2 separate regions of the Homo sapiens genome follow, and region 1 is linked to region 2. The links come from fine-mapping of genetic effects on gene expression. A gene starts in region 2. The other region holds a variant in brackets. All regions are shown on one strand. Distances are from middle to middle.

Region 1 (5,398 bases), 22 kb before region 2:
TACCAATCTGAAAATTATCAATGTAATTAAAATGGTATGGATGTAGGGTATAAGTAATTTTATTTTAAAATGGTGAGTTTTGAAATTTTTAAAGGAAATATTCTCTGAAACTTTAGAAAGTATTACTAAGTATAGTTCTAAGTGTTCTTTTCTTTGTGCCACGAACTATAAATTTCAATTTAAAAATTTTTAAAAATTTAATATATATGGTATTTATATACAATAGAATTGTAGTCAGTAATAAAAAGGAATAAAATATTTACACATACATATAACATAGATGAATCTTAAAATAATTATGCTGAATGAAAGAAGCCAGGTTAATAAAAAGAGTACTTATTGTGTGATTCTATAGATGTAAAATTCTATAGAATGTAAATTAATATATATTGACAGCAGATCAGTGATTGTCTTGAAGAAGGAGAAACTACAAAGGGACACAAGAAAACTTATAAATAATTGTTTTATTTATTATATTGATTTTGGTGATTGCTTCCTGGAATATTCAAATATTAAAATTCATCAAATTGTACAGCTTAAATATGTATGTTTAGTGTTTGTCAATCATGCCTCAATAAAGGTGTTACAAAGAAAAAATACAAAAGAAGGAATTCCATTAGTAAACACAATGGTATCGCTGATATAAGACTAAATCTCTTGCTGTAATAATTTCTATCAGAGTTGGATAAAATATATAAAACAAGTGTTTGCAGGTACTGAGAAACATCATTGGGAGAAGGTCAGCATACACACTAAGCTTCACATTCACCCCACTTGTCTCCTTGAGGGAATTGCCAAAATATGACCAAAGAAATAGAATACAGCAGCTTTACTGAGTGGATGATACACATACTGGATTTTGGGGCTGCTAAAGCAGTTGTAATTTTAAGGGCAGAATACGGAGAGGATGAAGCCAAACTATGCAAAAAGTTTCTCCTTGCATCATTGGTAACTCTTAAACTGCACATACCAAAGATGAGACCCATGTGAGACCTAGGAGCAATGTTTGCTATGAAGTTGAGAGCTAAGCAGAGACTTCAGAAATCACATGTTTTGGAGAGACATTGAAGATCAGCTCCAGCGAGTATAGAGACCTTGATGAAGAGCCTAAACATTGAGGTGAGATCCCAGAAAGGTCATTCCCTATGATTAAGGGCTACACAGTAGGAGTAAGGGAAATAGAACCACTATTTCAAATCCCCAAACCAAACTTTGACAGCATCAATGTGATCTACTAGTAATTGATCTACCACCCAGAATAAAAATAAACACTCTTTAGTGGAAAATAACATAATCCAGAATTCTAACATGTAACATTAACAATGCCTAGCACACAATTTAAAAAGGATCAAGTGAATAGTCTATAACTGCTAAATACATCTGACATTGAGATGTTTTTGAAAAGGATTAAAAGCATAATAGAGGAGAAGACAGAATTAATGGTCAAGGACAGATACAGAAAATACCTAAAAAAAAAAAAAACACACATATAACTGAATGTAAAAATGAGGTAAAACTTAGGTAAAAGGTCTAACATATGTGTACGCTTACTTTCAAGAGGTGAAAAGAAAAGAAATGGAACAGAAACAATATTTGGCAAAATAACTGCCCCCACTGCATCCCCGCAATTTCCAATTCTGATGAAGGCATTAACTCATAAAATGCTCTGCAAATCCTAATCGTCATAAGTAAATATCAAATTAAATTACTAAAAAATAAAACTTAAGTAAAAATATTTAAAATGACCATAGAACAGAGTCATATTTTCTTTAGAGGAAAAAAAAACTAGAAAGAAATAATTTTCTTAACAGAACCTTTGGGAGCCAGAAGATGATGGAATTGCCTCTTTGAAATGCTGAAGAACCAAAAGGAAAGCAAAACAAAACCAGAAACCTTAACTTAAATTTCAATATGTAGTGAAAAAATTCTTTACAAATAAAAGCAAAATAAAGATTCCCTCAGACAAAAACTGAGGAAATGAAATATTAGCAAATTTGCACTAGAAAATCTACTGAAGAAAGTTCTTCAGTTGAGTAAAATGATTCCAGAGAACAGAATCTACGTGAAAAAAAAATAATAGCACCAGAAAGGGTAGATATGTGGAAAAATATATAAGATTTCTTACTGTCTAAAGCAATGGTAACCACAATCTCTAAGGGACCTAAAAAGTATGAAAGTAAAATACATGGCAATAGCCTAAGTGTTTAAAAAAAAAAAAAAGGTATGTTTAAAAAACAAAGGTAAATAGATCTAAACAACAATTTAGTAAGATTCTTTCTTAGAAATATGATAAAAATATAAATTTATAGAAGTTTTTTAAATAAAGTAAGGAAACATTAGCAATTTCTAAAGAAACAATAAAAATACAATAATAAGACAAAAGACATAAAAAAGCTAATTTAAGAAATAAAATGGCTTTGGGAGGCTGAGGCGGGTGGATCACGTGGTCAGGAGTTCAAGACTAGACTGGCCAATATGGTGAAACCCCATCTCTACTAAAAACACAAAAATTAGCCAGGCATGGTGGCATGCCTGTAATACCAGCTACTCAGGAGGCTGAGGTAGGAGAATCACTTGAATCTGAAAGGCAGAGGTTGCAGTGAGCTGAGATTGCACCACTGCACTCCAGCCTGGGCAACAGAGTGAGACACCATCTCAAAAAAAAGAAAAAAAAAGAAAAAACAAATAAAAATGGAATACAAATAAATCACTGATTTTAAAAGGAAAGAAATAAAGAAGAACAAATAATAGATGGTATAAATTAAAACAAAATTATTAAGATAGTAGACTAAAATTCAACTATATCAATAATTGCATCAAACATATTGATGGAATATGTCAATAAAAAGACAAAGATTGCCACATTAGCCTTTTTTTTAAAAAAAGATCCATCTATATGCCATTTACAAAGCATGCTCTTTTTTTTTCCTTCAACTTTTAAGTTCAGGGGTACATGTGCAGGATGAGTGGGTTTATTACATAGGTAAATATGTGCCATGGTGGTTTGCTGTACAGATCATCCCATCACCTCTGTATTAAACCCAGCATCCATTAGCTATTCTTCCTGAGGCTCTACCTCCCCCAGCTTCCACAAGCTCCAGTGTGTTATTTACCCTCAATTGTCCATGTGTTCCCATCATTCAGCTCCTACTTATAAGTGAGAACATGTGGTGTTTTGTTTTCTGTTCCTGTGTTAGTTTGCTGAGGATAATGGCTTCCAATTCCATCCATGTCCCTGAAAAGAACATGATCTCATTCCTTTTTATA[G/A]CTGCATAGTGTTCCATAATGTAGATATACCACGTTTTCTTATCCATTCTATCACTGATGGGCATTTAGGTTGATTCCGTATCTTTGCTATTGTGGATACTACTGCAATGAATATATGCATGCATGTATCTTTATTATAAAATAATTTATATTTTGGGGGGTATACACTCAGCAATGGGATTGCTGCGTCAAATGGTATCTCTGCCTCTAGGTCTTTGAGGAATTACCACACTGTCTTTTACAATAGTTGAACTAATTTACACTCCCACCAACAGTTTAAAAACATTTCTTTTGCTCTACAAGTACTCCAGCATCTGTCATTTTTTAAGTTTTTAATAATAGCCATTCTGACTGGTGTGAGATGGTACCTCATTGTGGTTCTGATTTGCATTTCTCTAATGATCAGTGATGTTGAGGCTTTTTCCATATGTTTGTTAGCCACATTTGTGTCTTCTTTTGAGAGGTGTCTGTTCATGTCTTTCGCTTAGTTTTTAATGGGGTTGGTTTATTTTCTTGTAAATTTGCTTAAGTTCCTTGTAGATTCTGGATATTAGACCTTTGTCAGATAGATAGATTGTAAAAATTTTCTCCCATTCTGAAGGTTGTCTGCAAAACATACTCTCTAAATATAAATACAGACAGTTTGAAACATAACTGATGGAAAAGTTGTGCCATAAATACATTATTCAAAAGAAAGCTAGTGTGAATATATTATCAGTCAACATAGACTTTAAAGCAAAACATATTAAGAGAAATAAAGATATTTTATAATTATAAAATATTTTATAATTATAAAACATTTGAATCAATAGGAATATTTAACAATTTTAAATTTGCAGGCACTTGAAAACTGCTTTAAAATATGTAAACCAAAAGTTAAGATTTAAAATGATAGACAATCCAAAATCTTAGTTGAAGAATTTAACACACCTCTCTTAATAACTGATAGAATAGGCAAACAAAAAAAGAGCAATAAGGATGTCAAAGTTTTGAATAATACCATTAACCAACTTGATCTAATTGGCATATTCGAATATGCCAATTAATTACAGAATATACATGTTTTTCAAGTACATTTGAAACATTTATCAAAATGGATCATAGAGCACTTATGCAAGGCTTATACATTTCAAAGGCTTGATATAGTGCATTTTTTTTTTCTGCCACAGTGCAGATTAATTAGAACTTAAATTATAGGAAAAAACTTGGAAAATTCATATTATGGGACAGCAAATATTTCAAAAGCAAAATAGAGTTCAGGACAAATGGAACAACATCTTCACAGTGCTGCTAATGAAAAGCTGTCAAACTAGAATTCTGTAATTTATACTCATTCAAGAATGAATAAATAAAATAAAAACATTTTTGCCGAGAAAAATATCAGGATTTTCAAAGGACATATGTTAAGAGTTATAAAAATTCCCCTTGAAGGAAGAATTTTATGCCAAATTTAAAAAAAAATCATGAACATTCTTCTAGCCTTCCACATAGGAAAGGGGAAATACACAACTCCAGCCCACTCCAGCCATCCTGCTCCACCTAAGTGGCAAACAAAGCAGCAATAGAAAACAAAAAAACCTGAGAAATAACAGTGAAGTTTACAGACCAGGGGCACAGGCTCACCAAAAGATGGAGAATTAATCATAAGATAGACTGATAAGATTCATGCCAGAGTCAGATATGGCAGGAATGTTGGAATTATCAGGCCAGAAATTTTTTTTTACACTATGACTAATGTGCTAAGGGAGTTACTGGAAAAAGTAGATAGCCTATGCAACAACAGAATGAAAGCAGAAGATAGAAATTCTAAGAAAAAAAAAAAGAAGTGCTAGAGATTAAAAAAAATGTAATTGAACTGAAAAATGCTTTTGATGGGCTCATTAGTAGACTGGACACACCTGAGGAAAGAGTCTTTATGCTTGATGATATGATAACGGAAACTTCCAAAACTGAAAGGCAAAGAGAAAGAAGAATAGAAACAGAAGTACAGAATATCCAAGAACTATGGAACATGTACAAAAAGTGTAATGCATATTTAATGTTGATACCAAAAGAAGAAAGAGAAAAAGGAACAGAAGCAATATTTGAAACAATAATGACTGAGAATTTTCCCCAAATCAAGTGGATGATT
Region 2 (5,398 bases):
AAAGAAATTAAAGAGGACAAAAACATTGAAAGATATTCCATGTTCATGGAATGGAAGAATAAATATTGTTAAAATCCCCATACCACCCAAAGCAATCTATAGATTGAATGCAATCCCTGTCAAAATGCCAATGATATTTTTCACAGATATAGAAAAAACAACCTTAAAATTTATATGGAATCACAAAGGATCTAGCATAGCCAAAGCTATCCTGAGCAAAAATAACAAAACTGGAGGAATCACATTACCTTACTTTAAATTACACTACAGAGCTATAGTAACCAAAACAGCATGACACTGGCATGAAAACAGACACATAGACCAATGGAACAGAATACAGAACCCAGAAATAAAACCACACACCTACAGTGAGCTCATTTTTAACAAGGTGCCAAGACATACATTGGGGAAAAGACAGTCTCTTCAATAAATGGTGCTGGGAAAACAAAATACCTATATGCACAAGAATGAAACTACACCTCTATCTCTCACTGTATACAAAAATTAAATCAAAATGACTTAAAGACTTAAATATAAAATCTCAAACTATGTAACTACTAAAAAAAAAAAACCTTGGGGAAACTCTTCAGGACATTGTACTGGGCAAAGATTCCTTGAGTAATACTCCACAAGCACAGGCAACCAAAGCAAATGCGGACAAATGGGATCACATCAAGTTAAAAAGCTTCTGCACAGCAAAGGAAACCATCAACAAAGTGAAGAGACAATTTTCAGAATGGGAGAAAATATTTGCAACTATTGATAAGACAATGGATTAATAACCAGAATATATAAGGAACTGAAATAACTCTAAGAAAATATCTAATAATACAATTAAACAATGGTCAAAATATCTGAAAAGACATTTCTCAAATAAAGACATATAAATGGCAAATAGATGTATGAAGAGGTGCTCCGCATCAATGATCATCAGAGAAATGCAAATAAAAACTACAGTGAGATATTGCCTCACCCCAATTAAAATAGCTTGTATCCAAAATATAGTCAATAACAAATGCTGGCAAGGATATGGAGAAAAAGGAACCTTTGTACACTGTTGGTGGAAATGTATATTAGTATGACTACTATGGAGTACAGTTTGGAGGTTTCTCAAAAAACTAAAAATAGAACTACCATAGAATCCAGCAGTCCCACTACTAGGTATATACTCAAAAGAAAGGAAATTAGTATATCAAAGATATAAGATGTATCTGCACTCCCATTTATTGCAGCAGTATTCCAATACCCAAGATTTGGAAGCAATGTAACTGTCTATCAACAGATAAGTGGATAAAGAAAATGTGGTACATATACACAATGAAGTACTATTCAGACGCAAAAAAAAAAAAGACTGTTATTTCTGTCATTTTTAACAACATGGATGGAACTGGATGTCATTATGTTAAGTGAAATAAGCCAGACACAGAAAGACAAACTTTGCCTGTTCTCACTTATTTGTGGAGGCTAAAAATGAAAACAATTGAATTTATGTAGATAGAAAGTAGAAGGATGATTATGAGAGGCTGGGAAGGGTTTTGGGTAGGGGTGAAGCATAAAGGATGATTAACGTGTACAAAAAATAGAATAAATATGATCTAGTATTTGATAAAACAACAGGATGACTACAGTTAGCAATAATCTATTGTACATTTAAAAATAACTAAAAGAGCATAATTGGGTTGTTTGTAACACGAATAAAGTATAAATATTTGAGGTAATGAATATGCCACTTATTCTGATGTGATTACTATGCATTGTATGCCTGTATCAAAATATCTCATGTGCCCCATAAATATATACACATGCTACGTACCCACAAAAATTTAAAAGGAAACAAAACAGAAAAAGACAAATCACAGACTATTTTGAATTGATTTCTGTGTTTGGTGTGAGATAAAGGTCCAATTTCTATCTTTTGCATGTGAATGGCCACCTTTCCCAACACCATTTGCTGAAGGGACTATCCTTTTCCCATAGTGCCATCTTGACATCCTTGTTGAAGGATGTCAACAATGATGACATCTTGACATCCTTGTTGAAGGATGTCATGCTTGTTAATCATATATATGTAGATTTATTTGTGGCCATTCTAATCTGTTACACTGGTCTATATGTCTGTAATGCCAGTCCCATATACAAATTTTTAATCACTATAACTTCGTAATACGTTTTGAAGTCACAAAGTGTGAGGCTTTTTTTTTTTGTTATTTTTTCTCAATTTTACTTTGGTTAGTTCGGCTCTCTTATGGTTCCATATGAGGTTAAGGATGCTTTTTTATTTGTGCAACAAATGCCACTGAGATTTTGATAGGGATTCCATTGAACCTATAGATCTCTTTGGGCAATATGGGCATTTTTACAATCTTGTCTTTTAATCTATGAACATGGGATGTCTTTCCATTTATTTGTGTCTTCTTTAATTTCTTTCAGTAATGTTTTATAGTTTTTCAGTGTAGAAGACTTTCACTTCTTTGGTTAAGTTTATTCCTAAGTATTTTATATTTATTGATGCTATTGTAAGTATTGTAAGTATTGTAAGGATTGTTTTCTTAATTTTCTTTTTGGATATTTCATTGTTAGTGTATAGCCACATAAGTAATTTTTGTGATAATTTTGGATCCTGCAATGTTGCTGAATTTATTAGTTCTAACAGGTTTTTTTTTGTGGAATCTTGAGAATTTTTTGTGTACCCATGTAATCTACTAATAGAGATCATTTTACATCTTCCTTTCTGACTTGAATGCCTTTTATTTCTTTGTCTTGCTTATTTGCTCTAGCTAGGACTTCAAGAACTATGTTAAATAGAAGTGACAAGATTGGGCATTCTTGCCTTGTTCCTGATTTGAGAGGAAAATTTTTCAGTTTTTAACTGTTGAGCAAGATGTTAGCTATGGGCTTGTCATATATGGCTCTGAGATAGCAAGATAAAAACTAGTCCTCTCAGATAGGCTGCCAAAAGCCAGAAATTTGGTTGCTGGTTTTATTTCTTTTCCTCTCCAGGAGGAAGCAAGGAGTTAGAGGTTTTCTTCTACTCTTTATTTACTGAGCCAGAGGAAGCGACCATGGCCAGTGAAGGGTCCAAATTTTTGCCTTTGTTCTCAGCAGCTCTCAACTTGGCACCCCTTCCTGTCAGTGTTCTTCTAGTCAGGACATAAACCAGTCCCTTGGGCAGCTCCTGAAAAAGTCTCAACATTGGACATATGTTTCAGTCTTCTCTTTCCATTCCAAGGGAGAAACTGAGATCTGGGAGTTTTCTCTCAATTGCATTGCACTGAGGAAGAGGGCCTATGGTAAGTGTTTGCCATGAATCTTCCTACTGGCATTGGTGCAGCTGGGTTTGTGTTTGCCTGGGATGCTGGAACCTTTTAGTTGGTTTCTGGATTTCTCACAAAGGGAAATGGTCTGTATTGTTGTTGAATTGCTTTCTCCTTAGAGGAAAGAGAGGCTAGGGCTCCCTATTCAATCATCTTGCTGATGTCCATTTAATTCCTCCAAAGATGTTTGTCTTGTAGCCCACTAAATTCCTATTCTAAGACTGCCAATTATTTTCTGTGTTTACCAAACGCTGTCATTCTAGAGTCTGTTTTCTTTAGCTTCCAGGGTGAATTTCCTCGCTTCTTATATTGCACAATTTGTCTTTCTTAGTTTCTGTTTCTGTTTTCTGATTCATTATCACGAATGATATCATTAAGAACCATCCTCAGAAAAGGAACATGAGAGGTAAATTCAAGATTTGAAAGCCTTAAAATATTTTATTTTGTTTTTACTCCTGATTAGTATCGGGCAGGGTTTAGAATTTTATATTCTGAATTTTGAAGTCTTTTTTTATTGTGTGATATCAACAAATGGTGCTGATAAGTCAAATTATAGATGGAAAATAATTCTAAAGGAAGTTTTAGATTTATCTATTTGTTGTACTGAAATTTCATGTCTCTAGAAGTACTTCTTTTTACATCTATTTTCTTATTTTCCTATGGACCTTCTCTTTAGCTTTGGGGCATCGACATTAAGTTATAGGTTAGTTATGAGTTGATTACTCGTGACTGTATGAAAAATAAAATTTTAAGCAGAATATGCTTTCTAAAATATTTGTCTATAATCTGCCAAACATCCTTTTTGTTATTCAATATTGGTAATCCAGAATAGATTCATATATGTTCTATCACGTATAAGCAAACATAAACTAAATACAAGAAATACTCTTGGAAATAAATAAAATAACCTAAGTGTCCTTTGATAAAATAATTCAAGATTAAATCGTTGTAGTCTATTATTCAATAATACTAAATTTACCATTCAGAAAAGGGAACAAAATTGCTCAGAAAAAAATTGAGCTCTTTGCCATCCTTATACGCAAAGAAGAGGTTTATGGTTCTTTAGTCCTCGTAAGAAACATATGAAATTGTATTTTTAATTTCCTAACAGGGAGCCATTGGTTAACTTATTTTTAGCTTGCAATTAGTAGAAGAAAATATCTCATATAGCAAATATTACAGTGTAATCTGATTTTACCTCTTGCAGAGTTTAGTAAACAAATAAACCCCACAACAATGACAACACAACATAAAAAAGTTTGGCTTTAAGCAAAAATACATCTATATTATTATCCTACAACATGGTATTCAAAACTTACATAATTTTGCTTCCATTTTTTCCAAAGATGCTAGATTATATGCTTTTACCATGCCTCAGCCATTTGGAAATAGACAGATAGTGCATAAAGATAAACTCAGTGTTAATTCAAGAAGGAAAACAGGAATCTACTGAAATAATGAAAAGCATCCAAGATCTCAGAGAGAATGCTGGCAAAAATCCCAATGATGGCATCTGCCTGACAAAAGTAAGTGAAGCCTCAGTAAGTGAGAGATGCAGAGAGCTGCCCTATATGACTCACCTTTCCACTAGGGATCTGAGCAACCCAAGGGAGAGCACTTTGTTTCTCTCAAACCCTGAAACTAACTTGAGGAGAGGCTTGGAGATGCCATGAGGGAAAGACAGTGGGAAAAGCTTCAGACATTTTCCTAGACCTGGGATTGAGAGGAGGACAACATTTTTAATCTGGTTGCATGATCTGGTCAGCCATTCTTTGGTAACCTGGCAGCATGGTCACACAGACATTTGAGTCTCAGGCCAGACATTGGAGTGCCTGCTCTGGGGCCGGGTTGTGGCCTCCACAGCCAGAACTGTGGAAAGCACCTCAACAGTAGGCGCTGGAATTGTGCTCTTCCTTGTGACAAGTCTAGGGTGGGGAGAGCTTCTAAAGCTGCAGTTTATCCTAGGCAGTGAGACTTGCAGGTAGAGCCAGTTCAGTGACCTGGAACCAGTCTGTGGATGCCATTGCTGGGTGCCCCAGCCTGCTTCCCTGAAATCACGGTGAAATGGGGCCATCTCCACTCCA

Alleles and levels. Alleles are on the strand shown, and positions count from the first base shown. SD is a standard deviation of normalised expression in the study named.
With allele G in place of A in region 1, the expression in amygdala of the gene that starts at base 3,031 in region 2 is lower (large effect, 1.0 SD a copy in GTEx).

The links. PIP is the estimated chance that this variant, and not a neighbour inherited with it, causes the effect.
Region 1: its variant is the best candidate, but not a certain one, in a credible set for the expression of LINC03084 in amygdala (GTEx, PIP 0.75).

The regions. Positions count from the first base shown.
Region 1 is chr8:105,208,348-105,213,745 of GRCh38, reverse strand. No RefSeq gene overlaps it. Among named protein-coding and RNA genes, the nearest start is that of LINC03084, 22 kb to the right of the region's middle. RefSeq lists a silencer at 4,811-5,105. The variant G/A (reference allele first, on the strand shown) is at 3,268.
Region 2 is chr8:105,186,428-105,191,825 of GRCh38, reverse strand. LINC03084 (long intergenic non-protein coding RNA 3084) reads left to right here and starts at 3,031. Exons shown (of 3, transcript NR_187537.1): 1 at 3,031-3,290.